4 separate regions of the Homo sapiens genome follow, and regions 2, 3 and 4 are each linked to region 1. Evidence: fine-mapped expression QTL. A gene starts in region 1. Each other region holds a variant in brackets. All regions are shown on one strand. Distances are from middle to middle. Region 1 holds the start of TPD52 (tumor protein D52). Region 2 overlaps TPD52-MRPS28 (TPD52-MRPS28 readthrough). Region 3 overlaps TPD52-MRPS28 (TPD52-MRPS28 readthrough). Region 4 overlaps LOC105375920 (a long non-coding RNA gene).

Evidence for each region. PIP is the estimated chance that this variant, and not a neighbour inherited with it, causes the effect.
Region 2: its variant is fine-mapped to the expression of TPD52 in naive CD4 T cells (Schmiedel 2018, PIP 0.95).
Region 3: its variant is fine-mapped to the expression of TPD52 in whole blood (INTERVAL, PIP above 0.99).
Region 4: its variant is fine-mapped to the expression of TPD52 in tibial artery (GTEx, PIP 0.94).

What each region holds. Positions count from the first base shown.
Region 1 is chr8:80,168,863-80,174,101 of GRCh38, forward strand. TPD52 (tumor protein D52) reads right to left here and starts at 2,702. Exons shown (of 8, transcript NM_001025253.3): 1 at 2,563-2,702. The coding sequence starts at 2,581. TPD52-MRPS28 (TPD52-MRPS28 readthrough) reads right to left here and starts at 2,702. Exons shown (of 7, transcript NM_001387778.1): 1 at 2,563-2,702. The coding sequence starts at 2,581. RefSeq lists a silencer at 2,534-2,863.
Region 2 is chr8:80,132,734-80,137,972 of GRCh38, forward strand. The region is part of intron 1 of TPD52-MRPS28 (TPD52-MRPS28 readthrough); the gene reads right to left. The region is part of intron 1 of TPD52 (tumor protein D52); the gene reads right to left. Among named protein-coding and RNA genes, the nearest start is that of TPD52, 36 kb to the right of the region's middle. RefSeq lists an enhancer at 1,811-1,860. The variant C/T (reference allele first, on the strand shown) is at 2,310.
Region 3 is chr8:80,092,644-80,097,882 of GRCh38, forward strand. All of the region lies in intron 1 of TPD52-MRPS28 (TPD52-MRPS28 readthrough), which reads right to left. All of the region lies in intron 1 of TPD52 (tumor protein D52), which reads right to left. Among named protein-coding and RNA genes, the nearest start is that of MRPS28, 65 kb to the left of the region's middle. The variant C/CT (reference allele first, on the strand shown) is at 3,058.
Region 4 is chr8:80,204,124-80,209,362 of GRCh38, forward strand. All of the region lies in intron 2 of LOC105375920 (a long non-coding RNA gene), which reads right to left. It also overlaps the pseudogene RN7SL41P. Among named protein-coding and RNA genes, the nearest start is that of MIR5708, 35 kb to the right of the region's middle. The variant A/G (reference allele first, on the strand shown) is at 2,629.

The DNA of each region.
Region 1 (5,239 bases):
CACTCATCTTAGGCAGTCAACACATATTTCTAAGCACCTACTGTGTGCACTGGTAACATAAAGATGAAAAGGCAGGTAGGCAGGTGGAAGCAAGAGTAAGGAATGGCCAGGTGGTTTTGTTTTGTGTTTGTTTGTTTTTTGAGATAGAGTCTCGCTCTGTCGCCCAGGCTGGAGTGCAGTGGTTTGATCTAAGCTCACTGCAACCTCTGCCTCCCAGTTTCTAGTGATTCTCCTGCCTCAGCCTCCTGAATAGCTGGGACTACAGGCCGGTGCCACCGCGCCGAGCTAATTTTTGTATTTTTAGTAGAGACAGGGTTCCACCTTGTTGGACAGGGGTCAAACTCCTGGCCTCAAGTGATCTGCCTGCCTCAGCTTCCCAAAGTGCTGGGATTACAGGTGTGAGCCACCGCACCCAGCCTTGGCCACGTTGTTCTAACACAGCAAAGCTTTGGAGTAAATGAACTGACCCTCCCAAGGCAGTGCCTCTTCTTTCATTCGGAGCAGAGTCCTCCACCTCACCCAAAGAACATATGGGAAAATTATAGACACGAAAAGACTCATCTTACAAGATAAAGATTTGAAAAAAATATGTCTTAGAATTAGACACTTAAACTAGTCCTATAAAAACTACACAAGAAGTTGGAATACTGCAGTGCTACCAATGACTGTTGATTCTTACCACCCAAGCTAGAACACAAACACTACTAAAACTAGTTACTCCACTCACGTAAGTAAAACACAGCCGTTTAATTTACTTTGACAAGTACCAAACATAGTTATTCTAAAAACATCATTATGTCAAACGACAGTGTGTAACAGATTAGTATACAAATACACATGGGCACGTTTGTCGTCATGTCTCCCCCGTCCTGCGTCGCCCCCATTGAAAGCCAGACAGACATAATGCTGACTTACATGGTGGCCCCTAAGCCGGCTAACAATATATACAAGACATGTGACAAGCTTTCTAACTCAAACATTTGCATGTCTACTATGTACAAGTCATCATGTTATCCCACTCAGGACAACCAAAGATGAAATGTTTCTAACCTCAAGAAGCTTAAAATTTAGATAATAATATGTATGTGTATATATACGTTATACAGGTAATGTATAATATATATATACACATAGGTAACACATATAAAGCATATTGTATGTAATGTTTGTAAGCACTTGTGTTAAGTCTGAAATTAATCTGAAGGGGAGCGAGGAAAGAGCTGAAAGACTCCAAAGAGTCTATCTTACAAGTAAATGAAAGTAAAGTACAGGCCTGGCCCAGTGGCTCACACCTGTAATCCCAGCACTTTGGGAGGCTGAGGCGGGTGGATCACCTGAGGTCAGGACTTGGAGACCAGCCTGGTCAACATGGAGAAACCTCTGTCTCTACTAAAAATACAAAATTAGCCGGGCTGTGGTGGCGCACACCTGTAATCCCAGCTACTTGGGAGGCTGAGGCAGGAGAATCACTTGAACCAGGGAGGCAGAGGTTGCAGTGAGCTGAGATCCCGCCACTGCACTCCAGCCTGGGCTACAGGTGGAGACTCAAAAAAACAAACAAAAAAAACACCAGAGTCTGAAAAAAATAAAGTACAAGATAGTATATTTGGAATATGGTTTGATTTACATAAAAATGCACACATGACGGCACATACTGGAGGAAAATAAGCAATACATGAAAACTTGTGTCAGGGCTCAAAACAGGAGTGATTCCTATCCTCACTTCCCAAGATTACCTACCTTGTTTTCTTTTTTCAGCATTTATGTATCTTTTTAAAAGCGTGCCACACACATCTGCGTACAGTCACAGGCTTATGATCAGCAGAGATCTCTAGGATGAAACTATTTAAATCTGAAAACCATGGCCTACTATTGCTCTATTTGGGGGTAATTTCACTTGAGCTGTTTTCAGAAGCAAGTGCACCCAACGCTATGGTAAATTAGACTGAAGGTTTTGTGTTGTGGGATTTCACCCTTCCTACGAAAAGCTCTCTTCCCTCAAACCCACAGACACCACTCCACAATCTGGGGGTTTCTAGTATGATAAATATCTGCCTCCCAAACCCCCCATGGGTCATACGCCACCAAAAATCCTAACCACCTGAACTTAGAAGAAGGCAGAAAGTCTTAATTTATGAGGGAGAGAGGGGTTTCCCACCTGGAGGGACGAGAGCGACTCACTGTCCTCTGTTCCTGGTTCCAGTCACTTACAGGAGCTGGCTGCGCCGTGCTCCCTTCACGCGGCTTTCCACCCAAAGCGCATCACGGCCGCCAGCCCCTGACGCTAGCCCCTTCGCCACCTCCCAGAACCTTCTCTCCCTCTCCCCCACACACGCACACTCACACTCACACATGCAGTCCCATCTGCCCCCGCCAGAGCCGCTCCTTCCAGGGCCCCAGGATGCCAGATCCGGATCCGGGAGATGCAACTTGCGGCGCCGGCCCAGGAGGCTCGGCACCTGCTCGAGCCGCCGGGCCGCGCTCAGCCCCGCGCCGAGCCAAAGCCCGAGTCCAAGCCCGAGTCCAAGCCCGAGCCCAAGCCCGCTGGGTCCGCGCCCTCACCTTGCTCGCCGCGGTCCATGTCTCCAGCCCGCCGCCTCGTGTCCTCTGCAGCACCCCCGCCTGCAGCCCGTCCCGGCTCGGATCGCCCGCCGCGCCGCGCAGAGCTCCTCCTCGCCTCCGCCGGCGACTCCCGCGAAGTCCCCACCCCCAGAGGCGTCGGGCGCGGCGGCGCCGCCCGCCCTCGGCCTGGAGCGCTTTCCTGGGGCGTCACCCAACCACCTGACCCGGTCGACCTGTGCGCTCCGCCACGTCGGCGCGGGCGGCGCAGCGCTAGGAGGGCCGGGCGCACCCCGACTCCCGCACCGGCTGGAAGTCGGCCGGGAGGAGGGAAGAGGACGGCGAGGAGATGGACTCGGCCATGGAGGCTGCGTGGAGCCTGCTTGGGAACCGGGATGGCGTTTGCCTTCCACCATCAAGTTATTTATAAAATCAAAAGTTTCCTCCGAGGCCTTGGAGATGCCCTTTCTCTGCATCTGCGAACACCTACTTTCCTATACTTACAGTAGGAAACACAGGAACGTTATTTAGAAATGCCAGTGGCTCTTTTCTCTCTGTATTTTATTACCTAAATAATGCCCTATGATGTCTTCTCTAACTAGGTCATAAACCAGCATAGGTGAAAATTGCAAAGAATCTCTTGAAAAATTATATAGTCTTTTCCATAGAATGCGGATTTTTTAGGTGACTAGGAAGATTTTCATATAATAAAAATCTGTTTTGAGTGCGGGACTGAGGACAACACTAAAATGAATTAAATCAAATGAAATTAATTAAATTAACCGAAGGTCAGAATTATCAGCAGAGATCTTTGGAAAATGCGTGTTGAGGCGTCATGTCCGTTGATCAAAGGACAGTTTGAGGTTCCCGTAACAATCCAGTTCTTTTCATTAGTAGCGTTAACAATCTGTTTTCACAGGGTTTTGCAGTTACTCGTCTTCCATGAAGTCACTTTGATTGTATGGGTCATGGTCTTCAGGTGGTGTCTCAATTTCGTAAGCTATCTGAGGCTGCAAATGAAGTGGGGCTTCTTTTCTGTGTTGCTTGACGTTTAGGCCGAAGCATTGTGTAGCACTCCACAGACAACAAAGAAGCACTTATTCAGATGTTTTAAAATTACTTGTAGTTACCTGAAGTGACTGTATGCTATTAATATCTCTATACTGTCGTGCTGTATGTAAAGTGTAGCTCTCTCCAGCCTGCATCTTCCAGTGTCTTCTGGGGACGTTTACTGTTTGACTCAACCAGATGTGATCTCTTCTATTTGAGTCCTTCTACTCTGACTGCACTTGGCTCCTCTCCTGTGGCACTCACCCCAGCACTGGTGCCAGGATGCTACCAGTGTATGTTTCACAGTCCTATTAGGTTACAAGCTCCAGGTGGTAAAGTCCTTAAAATGGCCTATTAAAAAAATCAAAAAACAGGCCTGGCACGGTGGCTCACGCCTGTAATCCCAGCACTCCGGGAGGCCAAGGCGGGTGGATCACTTGAGGTCAGGAGTTTGAGACCAGCCTGGCCAACATGGTGAAACCTTGTGTCTACTAAAAATACAAAAATTGTCGGGCGCGGTGGCTCACGCCTGTAATCCCAGCACTTTGGGAGGCCGAGGCGGGCGGATCACGAGGTCAGGAGATCGAGACCATCCTGGCTAACACGGTGAAACCCCATCTCTACTAAAAATACCAAAAATTAGCCAGGTGTGGTGGCGGGCGCCTGTAGTCCCAGCTACTCGGCAGGCTGAGGCAGGAGAATGGCATGAACCCGGGAGGCAGAGGTTGCAGTGAACTGAGATCACGCCACTGCACTCCAGCATGGGCAACAGAGTGAGACTCCATCTCAAAAAAAAAAAAAAAAGTTCCAGGTGGGCAAAGATTATTTTGGTCATCTCTGCATCCTTTAATTCTACCATGCAATTAATAAATATTGTAATTTTAAACCAGGCATGGTGGTGTTTGCCTGTAAACCCAGCTACTCAGGAGGCTAAGGCAAGAGGATTGCTTGAGCCCAAAAAGGTGCAATATTTTTTAAAAAATTTTTAATGTAACATAAAGGTAAATTTTGGCATCAGCAGAAAATTCTGTATGTGGTAAAGAATTTTTGACTAGCTGATGCTGAGATCTATTGTATAGAAATAAACATCTGGAGAGACAATCTCTCAATGTACTAATTTGTGGACAAATAAATAGCACTTGAACGTGAGTGTCCGTTACAAATATTTATTGTTTGTATCTGTTTAACTTACTATATAGTGATGAACTTGTTATGTATGCTGAAAGGAAAAAAAGTCTTATCTTTTGAAGAGCTTATAGAGTAGTTCACATGCAGCAGAGATGGCAAATAGCCTACCTGATAAACAGCCTTCCTGTTTTCCTTCCTAAGATAACCTAAATATTGTTTGGAGTGGCAATGTGCCCAGCTGAAACACTGGGCACTTCAAACTGCCTTGCAGCTGGAGGTGGGTCTCTCTCATTAATGTCCAATGAGATGTGAGCAAACTGTACTAATTGGAATCTCCAAGAAAGCATTTAAAAAGAAGACAGACTTGGCAGCATTACTTGGCCCTTCACCCTTCCCATTCCTGCTTAGAGGGGCAATAGCCATTTTGCAAACACGAGGAAGAAATTCACAAGCCAAGGACGGCAGAAAGAACCCAAGAATCCATGGCATCAGAGACCTGCTT
Region 2 (5,239 bases), 36 kb before region 1:
GCGCCAGAAGATTTGGAAGCCCAGGATCTAAAAGCAGACGTCCTTTTGTTGTTCTGTGCCACCCACTATTGATTCAGAGAAAGAAACATGGGTCTCCTGCCTGACACTGTACCACATGAGGACGTTCTTCCAATGGCTGGAAGAAAGGAAGGGGCAAAAGGTTACCTGGAGTTTAGTTACCCTCAGTAATTAATTACTAAGGGGTCCCCATGCCACTTTTGAGTCCATACTTGCTAGTTCTCTATCAGTTCAGCCAGCCATAATGCTTCTGATGCTGATGTAAAAGGAAAATCTGTTCACTGATGAAAACTGAGTGTAGAGTTCAAATCCTGGCTCCAACACCTCTTAGCTGCATAACCTTGGATAGCTTACCTGGTCACTCCGGTCCTTTTTTCCTGCATTTGTAAAACCAGGTATGCACATATAACTCATATAGTTGCTATTAAGAATAAATATGACATTCAAAAGCACCAGTCTAATAATGTGTGTTCCCTTTACCTTTACTCAATAATTATCGGCCCCTCTTCCTGGACCACTTCAGACATTTTCTTAGGATACCACTTAGGCAAACGGTGACAGCCTGTGATTGACCCTCTGAGAGGTTCCAGGAATAGCAGCAAGGACTGCTACCACCACCCATGGGCCATATTCCATGTTTAGCTGTCTGGTGGATGCCAACCCCCCTCAAATTCAGAATCAAAACTGAATTTTCCTTCTTCCCTCCAAAACCAGATATTCTTTCCTCTTTGTGTTCCTCCTGGTCTCTTATTAACACTACCACCACTTTCTCCAGTTGCCCAGGCTTAAAACCAATTACAAACATTTTATTTCTTTGACCCACCCACTCACTGAGCCAGAGAAACATGAATCCTTCCCTCAGTTTCCTTTGGCTCCATTTCTTCTTTCCATTCCTCCCACCACTGGACCTTAGGTCTAGACCACACCTGCTCCTCAATTCCAAATGGAGCCCTACAGAAACTATCTCGATTTCATCAAGTTCAAGAGTCCAGGAACTTGATGGTACCGCTGATGCTAAAAAAAAAAAAAAACAGAAAAGAAAAGAAAAAAATTGTTGGCACATTTGAGGGAAGCTGGGCAAGGAGGGGGAGGATATTCAAAACACCCCAAGGAAGAATAACAGGGTCACTTTTTCTTTAAAGGATGAAGTTTATATTGTAGCAAGTCAGAATAAGAAGAAGATACAGAGGACTAGAAGTCACGGTTGAAATTCAGATCAGAAATGTCATCCAAATATAGAAAATAACAAATAATAAAAACCATTTTTCCATATACAGTATTCTGTAGAGTCAGTGACATGGCAGACACGGTGATTCTAATCCACGGCCACAGCTTAGGAGCAGTAGTTATTTCATTTATCAATTAATTTTCTTTAGTGCCTGGCATATCTATTTCAAAACCATTAAGTAATTGTAGCTGTTAACTGAATGCTTACTATGTGCCGGGTACTGTGCTGCATTATCTACATATTCTCTGCCTTGGTCCTTACCCAACCCTATGAGGGGCACTGCAATCATTCAAAGATCAGAACTGATAGTATAGAGATGGGGGAGAGACATGTCCCTGGGCTCACCTTTACAAGAGGAAAATGGTTTGCCCCAATAAGAAAACATTCATATAGTACCTAAAGTTTCCAATGTCTTAATGCTCATCATCTCATTTGAGTCACACAATAATTCTCTGAACTAGGCATGACATTAATTATTATCTCTGACTTACAATTAAGAAAAGCTCCAAGTCATGCAGGCCACTGTCTTCTTGCCTTCAAACATCTCTGCATGTTTCTTTCTAGAGCTGGTGGAAAAAGGACCATATCTGTGCCCACTTGTGAAGGGAGTAAAGGAGTATCCTTGGCATTACTAATGTCTCCTTTCTGATCCGAGAGAGAGTGTGTCATGAAGACACTCAGGCAGCTCCAAGTGGAGGTCCACACAGTAGGAACTGAGGCCTCCTGCCAGCAACTAGGTGCAGGAGCCGTGTTGAAAGTGGATCCGTTAGTCCATTCAGCCTCCAAATGACGACAGCCCCAACTGTCAACTTGACCACAGTCTCACGAGAGGCCCTGAGCCACACCATCCAGATGAGCTGCTCCAAGACTCCTGACTTGTTCCTGACATAATAAATATTTGTTGCCTTAAGCCCCTTAATGATGAGGTAATTTGTTACACAGCGATAGATAACTAATGCCAATCCAAACCCTGAGATATATGAAGCCTGAGGGTTTCAACATGAAGAAGCTGACAAGAACTGGGATCCCAAGAGAGTTCATGAATTCCCTTCCAGGAGACGTA[C/T]GCAAGTGCAGATGCTGAACTGCCAGGCAGAGGTATTACAGAAGGGATGCACACACAGGATGGAAACTTGCATAGATATCCCTTCAGGTTACTTCCAACCACAAGACCCAGTGAATTTAATTGTAAACGTCTCCCTAGTCTAGATGTACACACGGTTGTTGCCAGAATTGAATAGCTAACAAGCTGACTAAAATCTATCCAAAGCCTCCTTATTTAGAACATTTGAAATAATTTATTATTTTTGATAGAGAAAAGTGGTCACACAGGGAGTTTCATTTTCACCTCCCACTTCCCAAGACAACTGGCTCACTTCCCCAGCCAACCTCAACAAAGTTTTATCTCGGTGAACTACCTGAGTCTTCTCACCCTACCTGCCCCAGCCTACCTGCCCCCCAGGAGAGTTAGAGCTCTGACAAAGAGGAAGCCTGAATATACCCTTACTCTTAAGGCACTGGTTTTCCAACATTTCTGATAATTACTACTTAACAAGCACACTGTAAACTAGTTCAACCATTGTGGAAATCAGTGTGGCGATTCCTCAGGGATCTAGAACTGGAAATACCATTTGACCCAGCCATCCCATTACTGGGTATATACCCAAAGGACTATAAATCATGCTGCTATAAAGACACATGCACACGTATGTTTATTGCGGCATTATTCACAATAGTAAAGACTTGGAACCAACCCAAATGTCCAACAATGATAGACTGGATTAAGAAAATGTGGCACATATACACCATGGAATACTATGCAGCCATAAAAAATGATGAGTTCATGTCCTTTGTAGGGACATGGATGAAATTGGAAATCATCATTCTCAGTAAACTATCACAAGAACAAAAAACCAAACACCGCATATTCTCACTCATAGGTGGGAAGTGAACAATGAGATCACATGGACACAGGAAGGGGAATATCACACTCTGGGGACTGTTGTGGGGTGGGGGGAGGGGGGAGGGATAGCATTGGGAGATATACCTAATGCTAGATGACGAGTTAGTGGGTGCAGCGCACCAGCATGGCACATGTATACATATGTAACTAACCTGCACAATGTGCACATGTACCCTAAAACTTAAAGTATAATAAAAAATAAATTAATTAATTAAAAAAAAAAATTTCAGTCTTTGAGGTTAAAAAAAAAACAAGCACACTCACACACACATTTAAACAAAAGTTGACATTTAAGAAAACAATGGCCGGGCGCGGTGGCTCACGCCTGTAATCCCAGCACTTTGGGAAGCCGAGACGGGTGGATCATAAGGTCAGGAAATCGAGACCATCCTGGCTAACACGGTGAAACCCCATCTCTACTAAAAATACAAAAAATTAGCCGGGCGTGGTGGTGGGCACCTGTAGTCCCAGCTACTCAGGAGGCTGAGGCAGGAGAATGGCAGGAACCCGGGAAGCAGAGCTTGCAGTGAGCTGAGATCACGCCACTGCACTCCAGCCTGGGCGACAGAGCGAGACTCTGTCTCAAAAAAAAAAAAAAAAAAAAAAAAAAAAGAAAACAGTGCTCACCATTAGAACATGAAGGACATTTTGGTCTCATACTGTTCTACTACTTTGTTCTTCTTAAAAAAACACTTGGTCAAAATCCACAACCCAGTAAAAGGTCCCAAGAAACAGTATGGAGAATATATCCGAAGACATACTTCTGAACACTCAACAGCTCCTAAAATCCTCCTAGGTAGAGACAAAGGCAAAAAACTGAAATAATAAATCCCCCTTCACCCCAATCATGTGTAAATACTTAGTTCCACTTCACCCACATCCATAAAATACACAATAAATGCTGGGGCTTTCATCTAATCAAGAACAACCTCAGGCAGTTTCTATTCAAATATAAATAATTATCCAGGCCCCAAAATTCTTCTCCTAGTTCCACAGGTAATGACTGGAAAATCTACAAACAACTTCAGCTAAAACTCCCTTATCACTCTTAACAAGTATGGCTCAAAGACAAAATTTCAATCTTTTCCAATTTTTTTTAAAGTAGGCAGGCAGCAAAATAAAACATCAGCAAAAGCTAAATGTGCTTGGATAAAGCACAATTAAATACATGTTTGTATTTTTCCAAAATGGACCACAGGTTGCTATTAAAAAGAGTAATAAAATCAATCTATAGAAACTAAATAGATAAGTGTTTGCCTGCGGGCACGGGATGTGGAGTGGCTGTAAATAGACACAGGGTGATGAAAATATTCTAAAATTAGATTGTGGTGATCACTGCACAACTCTGTAAGTTTACTAGAAATCACTGAATTGTACATTTAAAACAAGTGAATTTTAAGGTAAACTATATGGTGATTATTTATGGCAAATTATATATCAATAAAGCTTTTTTCTTAAAAAATGGAAACTATATGTTAGATTTTTTTTTTAATATCCAAGATACGTGTCAGTTAAAACAAGCAAAGTACAGAATAATGTGTATGACATGTTCCCATTTGAACTTTTAAAGTGATTGTATACATTACCTGCCTAGACATTTCTGGAAGGACACCCAGAGGCTGATCATAACAGCCGCTCTGGGAGAAATGGGTCTAGGCTAAGAGAGTTTGAGTTTTAATTGCATACTGTTTGGATTCATTTGCTTTGAACATGTATTATTTTTCATAAGTATGAAAATAAGATGGGTGGAAGCCCTCAGGAGTAGGACTCTTACAGCAGTACCAAGTTTATAACGGTGCTAGTTCATATTGTTCTTTGAGAAGGGGATAGTTTGGTCCTTCAGAATTTAAATATTTCAGCAAGGTAGGGTGGCCTGTAATTCCAGCACTTTGGGAGGCCAAGGCGGGAGGATCACTTGAGCCCACGAGTTCAATGCTGCAGTGAGTCATGATTGTGCTACTGCACTCCAGCCTGAGCGACAGAATGAGACCCCGTCTCTTTTCTTTTTTTTTTCTTTTTTTTGAGACAGAGTT
Region 3 (5,239 bases), 76 kb before region 1:
TGTTAAGTGAAATAAGCTAGGAACAGAAATACAACTGTCACACGTTCTCACTCAAGTGGAGCTAAAAACTGTAGATCTCGTGAAGAGAGAGTAAAATCACAAATTCCGTGTTATACACATTCTACCACAATTTAAAAAAAAAAAAAGATCACATAATTATAAGAGGTGAGATTGTCACTCACACTTTAAATTACTGCCAGAGGCTGGGAAGAGGAGGAGTTGAGCAGGGGTGGGGGTAGGAATAAAGGATGGAATAAAGGTGGAAGGGGGAATAAAGAATATATTTATTACCAAGGAAGTGTACATTTCAAATGGTACAGATGGTAAATTATATACATATATTTTGTCTCAATTAAAAAATATAAAAACTATAAAAAATTAAATGTTAAAAATAAAAGATTTTGTTTTTTGTTTTTCTGAGACCCTAACAGTTCACAAAGCAGGCAAGTTCAGATAGGACAAAACCGGCTGTGTCACAACAGGGTGTGCACATGCTTGGTCTTTTCAACGGGATAATTATTTCGACTCTGGAATAATAATAATAATAATAAACAGAGTCCAGAATAATGGCTCAGTAATAAGAGAATGAAAGCAGGCCATTCTTACTAAAAGTATTAACAATGTATTTGAGAGTACAGTGGTCTCTATGGTGAGATTACTGGAAGATTAAAGAGGTGTCATCCAAGCTAAATGTTTCCAATTTGCTGAATGAGTTTAAAGACAGCTCTACAGGGGTGCATAAACACAAGCGACTGTCACAACCCTAAAAGGAATAAATGAACTGGTGGACTACATTTTAATGTGGAAAAAACTTCCACAATGCTTACACAGCTATTCCTGGCAATGAGAGGCTCATATGAAACACTTTTCCTTAAGGGAATGGGAGTTTCTAGAGAACAGTAGGCACTTATTTAAAATTAATATTGGACCACAAACTTCTATCATCAGCAAGCTGAGACCTAACAAACAAGATCAAAATACCAAGTCATACATTTAGGCAGTTAAACTTGCTTTTAAACTGTAATAAGCTAATTAGATGCATTCAGTGGGTCAACCATTAAAAAAAATATACACTGCACAAATCTTGTCAATTTTTCATTAAATTTTATTAAGAAACAAGAGTCCTGTGCCAAAAGTGATAGCTTCACCATCTGAACCTGCTACTCTGGTTAAGAAATGACATTTCCAATTCCAAATTTCACATACTTTCCTTTATAAAGACAATAGCAGAAGACCAATGCTACATGTAAACTCAATAGTAGCCCATTATCTTGAAACCAAATCAGTGTGTGGAAAGCTTCAAAACTTTCTTTGCCTTTTGGCACAAGACTGAAGACATGAGATTTTTTTTAACATCTGACCATAATAACTGCTGTATTAATCACTGTGAAGGCTCCTTGTTGACTTTTCTCAGAGTTTTATAAAACATCGCTATCAAACAGGTATTTATCAAAATAGGCATATAATTTTATTTATTCCAGGAAGCTCTCTCAGTGTTAAAAGGATAAGATAATTAACGTTTAGATGGAAAGAGAGCATGGGATGGAAAAATGCTCTCCTGAAACACAGCCAGATCTATGAAACCATACAATTACTGTCATGTCATCTCTGAAAGATCAAGTTAACAATGTGTATGATTTAATAATCTTACTTAATATGGCCAGGAATGCTAACAAATCGCCAAGCCAATTTGTTCTTATTCTTACGCAGGTAGCTAGACTACACCTCCCAGGCTCCTTTGCAGTTAGATGTGGCCATGTGACTAAGTTCTAGACAAAAGAAAATTTTATATATATATATATATATATATATATATATATATATATATATATATATATATATGTATGTATATATAACATGAGGGAGACATAAAGATTGTTGCCAATAGCCACTGAGATTTTGGGAGTTACTGATGGAAACATATTGCCAAATATAGCTTCAGATGTATTTCTTCAAATTCCTCTTTTAAAATGATCATATCCCCAGGTAAGAGTTTTGGAAACAGATAGTGGTGATGGTTACACAATGATGTGAATATGATGAATACAACTGAACTGTATACTTAAAAATGGTTAAAATCACAAATTATATCTTATATACACATATTCTACCATAATTTAAAAAAAAAATGATCACTTAATTATAAGAGTTGAAATAAGTTGGAACCATGATTAAGAAGTATTTTAAATACTCTTTCCTGAAAATATAAGCAAGACCTTTGTGTCCAGACTTGTTCAGAAAATGCTCTAAGTGAAGAAGAGGAAGCCCTGGGAGAGGCAGGCCTGGTTAGGTTGTCACAATAAGGAGGGTAATTGTCAGCAGGAGGAGAGATGCTGGGACCAAGAATATATCACAGATCCTTCAATTGCACTCCCAGGTATTTACCCAAATGAGCTGAAAACTTATGACCACACAAAACCCTGTAGTGAATGGTCATAGTGGCTTTATTCATGATCACCAAAAACAAGAAACCACCAAGATGTCATTCAGTAGGTGAATGGATAATAAACTGTGGTACATCCAGACAGTGGAATATTATTCAGCACTAAAAAGAAATGAACTAGCAAGCTGTGAAAAAACACAAAGAAACTTTAAATGCATATTATTGACAAAAGCCAATCTGAAAAGCCAAAATACTGTAAGATCTCAACTATGTGACATTCTGGAAAAGACAAAATTATGGAGACAGTAAAAAGATCAATGGTTACCAAGGGCTGAGGGGGAGGCAAGCAGGAATGACTAGGTTGGGGTGCTGGTGATTTTTAGGGCAGTGAAAGTATTCTGTATGATACTGCAATGGTGGCTACATATTATGCATCTGTCAAAATCCATTGAACTGGACAACACTAATAAAAACTACAGACTTTAGTTAATAATAATGTCTCAGCATTAACCAAATGTAACAAATGTACCATATGAATTTAAGGTGTTAATAATAAGGGAAACTAGGGGCGTGAAGGAACTCTGCACTACTTGTTCAATTTTCTGTAAACCCAAAACTGCCCTAAAATACAAAGACTAGGCCGGGTGCGGTGGCTCATGCCTGTAATCCAAGCA[C/CT]TTGGGAGGCCAAGGTGGGAGGATCATGAGGTCAAAAGATCGAGACCATCCTGGCCAACATGGTGAAACTCCGTCTGTCTCCACTAAAAATACAAAAATTAGCTGAGTGTAGCGGCATGCGCCCGTGGTCCCAGCTACTCAGGAGGCTGAGGCAGGAGAATCGCTTGAACCCAGGAGGCGGAGGTTTCAGTGAGCTGAGATCGCGACACTGCACTCCAGCCTGGCAACAGAGTGAGACTCCATCTCTACATACATACATACATACATACTATCGGCCAGGCACAGTGGCTCACGCCTCCAAGCCCAACACTTTGGGAGGCCAAAGCAGGCATATTGCTTGAGCTCAGGAATTTGAGGCCAGCCTGGGTAACATGACAAAAACCCGTCTCTATGAAAAATACAAAAATTAGTTGGGCATGGTGGTGTGCACCTGCAGTCCCACCTGCTGAAGAGGTTGAAGTGGGAGGATTGTTTAAGCCCAGGTGGTCAAGGCTGCAGTGAGCCATGATTGTGCCAATGTACTCCAGCCTGAGTGACAAGAGCAAGAACTTGTCTCAAAATAAATAAAGACTATCAAACACACACACACAAACACACACACACACACACACACACACAAACTTCTCCTAGTCTGCCTGGGGTAAAATACTCAAGCACCAAAACTCATCTGCTTGGACTATGGTCAAGGCTTCCTAAGTATCTGAAGTAGCACCAAAGAAAGCATGTTTACATGTACAGGCATACTCCTGTTTTACTGCACTCCACTTCATTGCACTTCACAGTATGTTTTTTACAAACTGAAGGTTTATGGCAACACTGTGTCCAGAAAGTCTATCTATTAGTGCCATTATTCCAGCAGCACATGCTCACTTTGTGTCTCTGCATCACATTTTGCTAATTCTCTCATTATTTCAAACTTTTTCATTATTATTATATCTGTTATGGTCATCTGTGATCAGTGACCTTTGATGTTACTATTGTAATTGTTTTGGGATGCCACAAACGACACCCATACAGGATGGCAAACTCAATCGATAAATGTTTGTGCTCTGACTGTTCCACAAACTGGCCATTCTCTCATCTCTCTCCCTCTCCTCAGGCCTCCCTATTTGATGAGACACAACAATATGGAAATTAGGCCAATTAATGTCCCTACGATGGCCTCTAGGTGTTCAAATGACAGGAAGAGTAGCACATCTTTCACTTTAAATCAAAAGCTAGAAATGATTAAGCTTAGCGAGAAAGGCATGTCAATAGTCTCTGTAGGCCAAAAACCAGACCGCCTGCACCTGCCAGGTTTTGAATGCAAAGAAAAAGTTCTTGAAGCTTCGAAATTACAAGTGCTACTCCAGTGAACACATGAATGATAAGAGGGCAAAAACAGCCTTATTGCTGATATGGACAAAGTTTGAATGCTCTGGATAGAAGTTCAAACCAGCTCAACACTCCCTCAAGCCAAAGCCTAATCCAGGGCAAGGTCCTACCTCTCTTCAATTCTATGAAGGCTAAGAAAGGTGAGGAAGCTGCAGAAGAAGTCTGAAGCTAGCAGAGGTTGGTTCATGAGGATTAAGGAAAGAAGCCATCTCCATAACATAAATGTATAAGGTGAAGCAGCAAGTGCTGATAGGGAAGCTGCAGCAAACTATCCAAAAGATCTAGCTAAGATAATTTATGAAGGTAGCTGATATGGTTTAGATCTGTGTTCCCATCCAAATCTCATGTCAAATTGTAATCCCCAGTGTTGGAGGAGGGGCCTGCTGGGAGGTGATTAGATCATAGGGGCAGATTTCTCCCTTGCTGTTCTCACAATAGTGAGTTCTCAAGAGATCTGATTGTTTAAAAGTGTGTAACACCTCCCCACTTTGCTCTCTTCCTCCTGTTCCACCCATCTAAGACGTCCCTGCTTCCCCTTTGCCTTCCACCATGATTCTAAGTTTCCTGAGGCCTCCCCAGCCATACTTCCTGTACGGTCTGTGAAACTGTGAGCCAATTAAACCTTTTCTTTATAAATTACCCAGTCTCAGGTAGCTCTTTACAGCAATGCAAGAACAAACTAAAACGGTAGCTACACTAAACAACAGATTGTCTATGTAAATGAAACAGCCTTTTATTGGAAGAAAATGCCCTCTAGAACTTGCAAAGTTAGAGAGGAGAAGTCAATGCCTGGCTTCAATGCTTCAAT
Region 4 (5,239 bases), 35 kb after region 1:
GGTGATAAATACCCCGACTTTCGTCTCCTCTTTCTTCTTTTTTTCTTACTGAGGCTCTGCACTGGCTGAACCCAATCAGAATGACAGTGGACTTGGCAATGATCATTATGGTCCATACCATTCAGGCTCCTGGGCAGAGAGCAACACAAAGAAGGCTGGAACTGGATATGGTGGGGCAAATAGAAGCTATTTGGCATAGAGAGCAATCTTGGAGGTATCACTGAGCAAAATGAAGAAATGTAACGGTAAAACCGATTGTCACTCAGGCTCCTCCTAAAAGGTTCCTAGATGGAATGACACACTGGTAGTAGTGAACACACCTACCATCCAGATCTTGGTTTCTAAATACCATTGTCACATAAAAAGAACCAGTACTCCTTGGAAAAATGGCTTTCTCTATGGCTGTGACAGGGAAAATACAAGATGACCTGGGCGTATCTTGTTTTGCCAGAAAGTAAGGAAGAGCTCAAAGACTGAAGGGTGCCAGGTATGGTGGTGTGTGCCCATGGTTCCAACTACTCAGGAGACTAAGGCAGGAGGATGACTGAGTCCAGGAGTTCTGAGTTGTAGTGCACTATGCCAATCAGGTGACTGTGCTAAGTTTAACATCAATATGGTGACCTCTTGGAGCAGAGGACCACCAGGTTACATAAGGAGGGGTGAACTGGCTCAGACTAGAAATAGACCAGATCAAAATTTCCTTGCTGATTAGTAGTGGGATGGTATCTGTGAATAACCACTGCATTCCAGCCTGGGCAACATGGCAAGACCCTGTGTCTAAAAGGAAAACAAAAAGATTTAAGGGTACATGTCAAAAGGACATAGGAGTCAGTTTGAAGAAATTCCCACTGGCCAAATCCGGGGCAATTTTGGACAATATTTAACTATTTGTAGTAATAGTTACAGATTGAGGCTGGGTGCAGTGGCTTCCGCCTGTAATCCCAGCACTTTGGGAGGCTGAGGCAGGTGGATCACAAGGTCAGGAGTTCGAGACCAGCCTGGCCAACATAGTGAAACCCCGTCTCTACTAAAAATACAAAAAATTAGCTGGGGGTGATGGCATGTGCCTGTAATCCCAGCTACTTGGGAGGCTGAGGCAGGAGAATTGCTTGAACCCAGGAGGTGGAGGTTGCAGTGAGCCAAGATTGTGCCATTGCACTACAGCCTGGGCAACAGTGCGAGACACCATCTCAAAAAAAAAAAAAAAAAGTGTTACAGATTAAACCTCAGAGTAAAGTAAATGTATGTGAACACATAGTGATATAAATTTTAAAATGAATGAATAAATGGGGAGAATGTTCTACCTTATAGTAAAAGTATTAAGGCATATTACTACAAAGTACTAATTAACTATTAATCAGTGAACACAATGTAATCATTAATTAATTTTATAGTGAAGAAACTTGGTGAACACATTAACCAAGTGATAAATATTATCATCAGGGCTGGACATGGTGGTTTATGCCTGTAATCCTAGCACTTTTGGAGGCTTATGCCTGTAATCCTAGCACTTTTGGAGGCCAAGACAGGCAGATCGCTTGAGACCAGGAGTTTGAGGCCAGTCTGGGCAACATGGAGAAACCTCATCCCTGCAAAAAATACAAAAATTATCCAGGTGTGGTGGTGTGCACCTGTAGTCCCAGCTACTTGGGAGGCTGACATGGGAGGGTCACCTGAGCCTGGGGAGGTTGAGGCTGCAGTGAGACATGATTGTACCACTGTACTCCAGCCCGGGCAACAGAGTAAGACCCTGTCTCAAAAAAAAAAAAAAAGTTATCATCAATAATGAAGTACAAGTCCTGTGCCTCCGATGTAATGTAATGAGAAAACCACATCATTACTTCTATGGTATTCCTTGCAATAAAAAAGCATACATCCTGAAGAAACATCAGACTTACCCAAACCAGGGGATAATTAAATGGTTAGTAGCCTGTACTCTAAAAATGACAAGGTTTTTTTTTGTTTGTTTCTGTTTTTTGTTTTTTTGAGACGGCGTCTTGCTCTGTCACCCAGGCTAGAGTGCATTGGCGCTATCTCAGCTTACTGCAACCTCCGTCTCCTGGTTCAAGCGATTCTCCTGCCTCAGCCTCCCAAGTAGCACCACCATACCTGGCTAATTTTCGTATTTTTAGTAGAGATGGTGTTTTACCATGTTGGCCAGGGTGCTCTCCAACTCATGACCTCAGGTGATACGTCCACCTCGGCCTCCCAAAGTGCTGGGATTACAAGCATGAGCCACCGTGCCTGGCATAAAAATGACAGGTTAATAAGAAACAAAGAAAGTCTGAGAAACAGAACCTGACTGAAGGAAACTAAATGGATATCATAACAGTCCCTGGGACTGCTCAGGGACTGTAATGGCCCAGATTTGACACTGGTCAGGAAGCAGGTGGCATTGAACCTTCTCAGAGGCTCTGAAGGGAGGGGGAACAGTAGAAGTTTTGCACCTAGGTTCTTCTTGGCACCACTTCTAAACCAGAGCAGCCTGGGCAACATAGTAAGACCTCCATCTCTACAAAATAAAAATAAAAAAACTCTGTATTTTTTTGTAGAGATGGGGGTTTCGTCATGTTGCTTAAGCTGGTCTCAAAACTCCTGGACTCAAGTGATCCTCCTGCCTCAGCCACC[A/G]TGCCTGGCCATACATTCATCTTATTAATAATATACTCTGTGTCTCTTACATGGGTATATATTAATAAATTCTAAGAAGTATATTTCTTGGTCAAAAGGTATGAGTATTCTAAATTTTATTAGACATGGGAAACTTGCCTTCCAACATATCTCATTTTTTAATTCTTAAAGTTGAATTGGCAAATATTGACTCTAGCCATCCTAATCTGTTATCCTTTTAGGCTCCTATGGGTCCATTTTAGATATTTTTGGTTGTGTTGATTTTATTTCTTTTTGCTCCATTATATTGCTTCATTTCCCCTTTGTTTTTCCTTTATCCCTCTTTGATGACTCATCTTCATGCTATTCGGCCAGAATCTGGGTCTGGAGGAGTGTGAACCATGGAGGGTTTACATTATAAACAAGACATCGCCTCTCAGCTGCTCATGCACCTGCTCCCTTGGCCTCCTGTGAAAACAGATGTCCCAGAGCAGTTACAAGGCTCTTTCAGGAGAATTTCCTCCAAGAAGATTTTGCAACTCAAATGTGAAGCCTCTTCAGGACCATAAGTTCCATGGTAAGGACAGCATACTTCATCTGCTTGAAAACTATTGGTTATTGACATGTTATACTATCTAGTATTTATATTAAAATTTTGCTTTTCAGAAAATCCAAGGACTCCAGTTGGATTTTAGGCAAAAATGTCAATATCAGGCCACAAGACAGAGGGTGGAGATAGCATGGAGGAGGGTCTGTTCAGGGACTGTAATGGCCCGGATTTGACACTGGTCAGGAAGCAGGTGGCGTTGAACCTTCTCAGAGGCTCTGAAAGGAGGGGGAGCAGTAGAAGTTAAGCACCCAAGTTCTTCTTGGCACCACTTCTAAACCAGTTATTTCTACCCCTTTTGTGAATGATTCTCCTCCTTGACTTGCAGAATCACCGGATTCTCTTAGATGTTAGTACTTCCAGCTCTCTTTTCTTACCTTGGAGGCCTGGAAGAAGCTGGCTGCAGTGAAGGTCATCCCTTAAAGGATATTTGATGGGCCCATTGTTCTCATGCTGGGTGGTTCTTTCCATCTGACAGACTCTCCATCTAACTATTGAGAATGGTGTAGAAGGGCAGGTTTCTGGGAGGAGAGGCCCCCTCTCATTTTCTAACCATTAGCCATGGTTCCACCCTGGAAAGTTCTTGAGATATAGGGACATGGCTAAGACTGATCTGCAAAAATGTTTTACTCATCTCTTTTTTTAAAAAAAATATTACCTCCAAGGTAAGTAGAGTTTCCGAAAAAAAATTTTAAAACAAGTTTTAGAATCTATGCTTTGCTGAAAATGTCCTTGTTTTTTTTATATTTGTCTCCCCACAAAGAATTTACTGGGTTCATTAAGCACAGCTTTCTAACTGATGTGCCCAAATGGGTTGCCCTAATCTCAATATTGAATCCCTCAGCCCTCGGATAATCAAATGGAGCTGGGACCAGCCTGAGCTCCCAAGATGGCTATCTCTGGCTATGAGCAGAATCTAAATTTGCTATTTAATATGTGCCAAGATGTTTAAAAGTTTGTGAAGTTCCGCCTTTGAGAATCATCCTTCAGCACATTGTTTCTCCCTGATACATATGGAAATATGCTGTAAAGTCCTTCTAACATGTCCCAACAATGTCCTGGAAGTAGCTTGTCTTCTCAGTGCGGCTGGAACTCAGGTAAGTACCCCTGAACAGGGCTGTATCACAACAGCTGCCCCAGCAGCTCATGACTCTGCAATCACTGTGCTATTGTTGGTGCTATTAATATTTAAGCAGGAGGCTTGGTGTAGCTGCCTGCTGAAACCCAGGCAGACTCAAGCCATGTGGCTGATACTCCTGTCCTACTGTCAATGTGGCTAATGCTATTTATGCCAACTCCTCTGCAGGCCACAGTAGTCCTTCTCCATGTCACAGTCTGTTAAAGATTCTCCTCATTGAAAGGCCAGGCACGCTGGCTCACACCTGTAATCCCAGCACTTTAGGAGGCTGAGGTGGGTAGATGATTTGAAGTCAGGAGTTCGAGACCAGCCTGGCCAACATGATGAAACCCCATCTCTACTAAACATACAAAAAAATTAGCCGAGTGTGGTGGCGCATGCCTGTAATCCCAGCTACTCGGGAGGCTGAGGCAGGAGAATCACTGGAACCTGGGAGGCAGAGGCTGCACTGAACCGAGATCGCACCATTGCACTCCAGCCTGGGCAACAGAGTGAAACTCTGTCTCAAAAACAAAAAAAAAGATTCTCATCGAACTGGCTTTCAGATGCACTTGAAAAATCTTTTCCCTGCACTCAAGCTTGCCAGTCAACTGTATTTGTTCCAAGAGGCCCCACTCTAAGACCCTGCACCAACAATCTGTTTTCCCCTCTATGTGGAAGTTCAGAAGCCAGCCCACCAGCCCTGTGTCCTATCCTTTTGGTGAGTTATTCCTCCAGGATCTTATTGTACTTTCCAGCTCTTTGCTCAGCCCAGTCCAGACTTGTCTTCAAAACACTGCCCCTTAGAAAGAAAGTGAGTGTGTGTGTGTATGTGTGTGTGTGTGTGTTTATAAGGAAGCAAGGAAGCAGCAGGACTTTCTCAAATGTGTTTCTTCCATCACAGGCAT